2 linked regions of the Homo sapiens genome follow. The protein of the gene in region 2 purifies or fractionates together with the protein of the main gene of each other region. This does not show direct contact. Each region holds a gene or a part of one and is shown on either strand. Other genes may lie near its edges.

Region 1 (3,071 bases), on a different chromosome or scaffold from region 2:
TTGAAGACCAAAATCAAGGGGTGAGGCTTCAAAAGAACCATTACTGGGTGTTCAGCCTTTGTGAGAAAACACTCAATCGCTTGGAGCTGGGGTGAGGCTTGTGTGCTGAAACATTGTGTAGAAGTCTTTAGAGCTGAGATTCCTTGAGAAACACAGGTGTTGTTTTCCTTCATCTGAGGTTTATATTTCAGAGAAAACCTGGACCTCCCCAACCCTAGCCATGGTTTGCCTAGATACACACTGCACTGGGGAGTTGCTGGGACAGTCCTGGACATCACCTTCTAGAAACCTCACTCAGGCCATCCTTTTTGTGGTTGAAATGTTAAGGCTCAGGAATCCTGAATGGTGGGATTGACAAATTCCAAAGATTTTAAATAGAATACCAGTTGTAATTAGTCCATTCTTTCACTGCTATAAAGAAATACTGGCCAGGCATGGTGGCTCCCGCCTGTAATCCCAGTATTTTGCGAGGCAAGGCAGGTGGATCTCTTGAGTTCAGGAGTTTGAGACCAGCCTGGGAAAAATGGCAAAACTTGTCTTTACAAAAAATACAAAAATTAGCCGAGTGTGGTGGTGCATGCCTGTGGTCTCAGCTACTTGGGAGGCTGAGGTGGGAGGATCTGCTTAAGCCTGGGAGGTGGAGGTTGCAGTGAGCCAAGATCACACCACTGCACTCCAACCTGGGTGACAGAGTGAGACCCTGTCTCAATAAAAAAAAAAAAAAAGAAAGAAAAAGAAATATCTGAGACTGGGTAATTTATAAAGAAACGAGGTTTAATTGGCTCATGGTTCTGCAGGCTGTACCGTAAGTATAGCGGCTTCGGCTTCTGGGAAAGCCTCAGGAAACTTCCAATCATGGCAGAAGGCAAAAAAGGAGTGAGGTGTCTCCCATGGCAGGAGCAGGAGCAAAGGCAGGGGAGGCGTTACACACTTTTTTTTTTTGAGACAGAGTTTTGCTCTTGTTGCCCAGGCTGAAGTGCAGTGGCACGATCTAGGCTCGCCACAACTTCTGCCTCTCAGGTTTAAGCGATTATCCTGCCTCAGCCTCCCAAGTAGCTGGGTTTACAGGCATAAGCCACCACACTGGGCTAATTTTGTAGTTTTAGTAGAGATGGGGTTTCTCCATGTTGGTCAGGCTGGTCTTGAACTCCTGACCTCAAGTGATCTACCCGCCTCAGCTTCCCATAGTGCTAGGATTACAGGCATGAACCTCCATGCCTGGCTGGTGCTGCATACTTTTAAATGTCCAGATCTCATGAGAAGTCACTCACTATCATGAGGACGGCATCAAGGAGCTGGTGGTAAAATCATTCATGTGAAACCACCCCCATGATCCAATCACCTCCCACAAGGCCCCACCCCCAACACTGGGGATTACAATTCGACATGAGATTTTGTGGGGACCCAGGTCCAAACCATGTCACCAGTTGAATACAGAGGATGGGCAAGGAAGTATAGAATAACATGGTTCTCATTTGGGTGAGGGAGTGTCATTTATGAAGTCAGAGTGTCTGGATGATGAATAGGTTCTGGGTCAATGAGGGATATAATTAACTCTATTTTGGTCATTTGGAGCTTGAGGTTCCTGTGTAGAGATCCAAGCTGGACTTTGAGGTCTTCAGCACAAGAAGCATCTCAACAGGAGATGGAGATTTTGGGGCCATCAGTGAATTTTTAGTAATTGAGGCCACAGTGGTCATGCAGTTTATAAGGGAGAGGGAGATAGGTCCTCCACTAGGGAGCAGCACTTAGAGGATTTATGAAAGAAGAGAACAGGCAGGGGCTCTGAGCATGAATATTCAGAAAAGTTGAAAGGAAGTCAAGACAATAATGTCACTAAAGCTAAAGGAAGAGAGTTTTTTTTTTTTTCTTTTGAGACAGGGTCTTACTCTGTCACCCAGGCTGCAGTACAATGGCGTGATCTAAGCTCACCGCAACCTCCACCTTCCAGGTTCAAGCAATTCTCCTGCCTCAGCCTCCTGAGTAGTGGGACTACAGGTGCTTGCCACCATACCTGGCTAATTTTTGTATTTTTTGTAGAGATGTGGTTTCACCATGTTGGCCAGGCTGGTCTCGAACCCCTGGCCTCAAGTGATCCACCCTCTTCGGCCTCCCAGACTGCTGGGATTACAGGTGTGAGCCAAGGAAGAGAGGTTTTTATGGGAAGAATAGATCAACACTGTCAATGGAGAGTCTGATGAGGACCAAAGAAATCACTGGATTCAGCTGTTAAGATGGCATTGGCCTCACTGGCAGATCTCTCATTACTGCCTCTTCCTCTCTTTGTTTCCCAGCACTGCATTGGTGGAGGAGGATACTTTCCAGAGGCCAGTCCCCAGCAGTGTGGAGATTTTTCTGGTTTTGATTGGAGTGGATATGGAACTCATGTTGGTTACAGCAGCAGCCGTGAGATAACTGAGGCAGCTGTGCTTCTATTCTATCGTTGAGAGTTTTGTGGGAGGGAACCCAGACCTCTCCTCCCAACCATGAGATCCCAAGGATGGAGAACAACTTACCCAGTAGCTAGAATGTTAATGGCAGAAGAGAAAACAATAAATCATATTGACTCAAGGCTTGGTGTTTCTGTGAATTCCTTTCCTGTAGGGGTGAAGCACTATAGGAAATTTCGAAAGCATGTGTATTGCTTTGGCTGATTGTACTTCAACTGCGTGTGTGCTTGGACTGTTAGGACTCGGGAATCCTGATAGAGAAACATGCCATCTCTACTTCCCTTTCAGATAGCCCTTAAAATAGCCAGAGGCATACAGGGCAAGGGGAAAGGAAGCATTTTATCCAAACCCTTCCTAACTCACCCACATGGACTGATCAATTTGTATCCTCAACCTGAAGACCCGAAAGGAGAAAAGCGTCCATTTTTTGGGGGGTGCCCCAAAGAAGAAGGAGATATACCCAATATCTATATCTAGTATGTTCTAACCTTAGTGACTGGGCGTTCTCCTTAGGGAAGAATGGGCTGGCATGTTGCGATGATGGTGACTCTCCTTGTGCAGTGGCTTAACCATTCCTGGGCTCCCATCTGCAGGTGCTCATTCAGAAGGAGACATGTGGCC
Region 2 (2,373 bases):
GCTTAGCTTCTCCCTGGGGCTGATCGCTTGATAATGCTGCCCTTCAACTATACAATCTCTCTGATCCCATTTCTTCTGCAGTTTCAGGGATAATCTTCCCTCTTTCTTATTTCTGGGAAAATAGAAATACTGGCATTCCAGCAGTGATTATGTATGAGTGCTCTGAGCTGGGGAGAAATAGGAGGGCTGCAGAGAGGTGAACAAGAAGCAGGGTCTTACAGGCTCTGCTCTCTTCTCCCTCCAGTCTCCCAGGATTCTTTTATTTTATGATTTTTCAGAAATGCCATTTCCCTATGTTTCATGTTCTAAGTGTAAATATTCTGTGACTTATTTTCAGTAATAAAAAAGGAAGTATTTCATTCACAGATTTTCATGGAAAGACATGATAATAGTAATGACTCATTCATTGAGCATTTCCCAGGAGCCATGCTCTGTGCTAACACTTGACATCCTTAATCTCATTTATTCTTCCTTACCACTCTATGAAGGTTCACTATCATTCTGACCACTCTACCAATGAGGGAACAAAGGCACTTAGAGATTAAGCAACATAGTAAGTAGATGGCAGAACTGTGACTCAAATTCAGTCCTTCTGGCCACTCCCATAGAAGAGAAAGGAATGAGGTAAAGGAAAGAGAAGAAACAGGTAGAAAGAACATGTAGAAAGAGGTGAAGTCTATTTGAGTGATTCTTAAAAACATAGGAAATCTCAACTCTGGCTATAAAAACTAAGCAGTAAGTGTATTGGTTTTACAAAATTAAACAGTAAACTCTGATATCTTAGAGAGCAGTTCTGTAAAAACTATAGGATTTTTGCTGGCATTTTTAATTCAGTTCTCTCAGCTTCTTAATTTGTCAAAAGATAAAAATGCCTGTCCTCCCCAGCATCCAATCACTTGATATTATATGTAAACATGCTTTGAAAAAAATTGAAAACTGATATAACACATATTTGGTTTTCAAAACTTCCTGAACACATTGGCTTAATTATGTTTACCAAATGCCTTGTGGTTTTAATAACAAGTTTAAGATCAACAGCAAAATTTGTAGGAAGAAGATAATGAGTTTTCTACGAAAGCAACTGTGAAGACTCTATTACTGGGAGCACAATATAGACAGTGGCAATCGTACAAATAAATTGGAGCTAGTACAAATAATAGATGTGTCAAGTCAGTTTGGTTGACCATTTCTAGGCAGAAAGATAGTTACCTTTGACTTTGTACTGAATACACTAGGGGCAGTTCACCAAGAAAATAGCCATCATTCATTACAAGTATTCACAATGGAGGAAATTCCTAGGGTAACTGTATTTTACCAATTTTAACTCTGATTGATCAAGTCCCGCAGACTTATCTGACATCAACCCAAACTTATAAACTGCAAAGGGCTCTAACTCCATGATACTTTTCATTTAATAACTTCTATATTATAATTAATAATAATAATGTTTAAATCATTATTTAACTATGAAAAGAGGATGGATTGAAAAATAATATTGTAAATAAAAGTAGATGCATGCATGTTCCTATCATTAGTACAGCTCTTGACATATTGTAATAATAATAGTAAACCTTGATGCATAATTCCTGTGCCAGGCCTTGTTTTAAGTACTTTATGCTCATTTAGCCTTGCTTTTATAGAGGTAGACACGAGTATTATACCCTTATTGCCTAAGAGAAAACTGAGGTAAAGAAATATTATGTAATAGCCCAAAAGTAGACTATTTAATTAAATAGATAACTCTAAGAAAAGTGCTAAACCAGAAGGTGAGACATATATACTAAACACAGCTCCACCCTTTACATACTTGACTTATTAGTCTTTGCTCTGGTACCAGTGAGATAAGAAATAAGACAAACACAACTGTATGAAAATCCATTATTCTAAATTAACATTATCTGCTTCAAAGTAATCATTTTGAGTAATCTCCGTATGGATCCTAGTGAAGCAACTAATGCCTAATATGCAACTAGTCTTTGAATTCTTTTGATCATTGTGGCATATTCTTTGGAATATTCCTAATGGCATCAAATCTTACTCCTTTAAGGAAGGTCAGCAAACTTTTTCCATTAAAGACAGGTATAAAATATTTTTGGCTTTGCAAAATATATGGTCTAGGTGGGGACTACTCACCTCTGCCATGGTAGTGCAACAGCAGCCATAGACAATATGTAAGTGTATAAATAAGATTGTGTTTCATAAATTCAATACACAAAATCAGAGGCCCGATTTAGTTCACGGGACTAGTTTCTTTTTAAAGATGAATTTTTGATGGTTGCTATTGTTTTGGCAGAAAGCAGTCAAAATCATTCAAAGGTAAGTAAAGATCCAGGTGAATACATATTCTTTACATATAAGCATTTATACATATAT

The links. Proteins that work in one complex are often made in the same cells at the same time.
Region 1: the proteins of TMEM207 (region 2) and ITLN1 purify together in Homo sapiens (co-immunoprecipitation; one study listed by IntAct). This does not show direct contact.

The regions. Positions count from the first base shown.
Region 1 is NC_000001.11:160,876,040-160,879,110, reverse strand, and holds the end of ITLN1 (intelectin-1 precursor), read left to right. Parts: intron 1-2,294; coding exon 2,295-2,447; 3' UTR 2,448-2,571; downstream 2,572-3,071. UniProt on the Homo sapiens protein: Lectin that specifically recognizes microbial carbohydrate chains in a calcium-dependent manner.
Region 2 is NC_000003.12:190,430,529-190,432,901, reverse strand, and holds part of TMEM207 (transmembrane protein 207 precursor), read left to right. Parts: intron 1-2,373.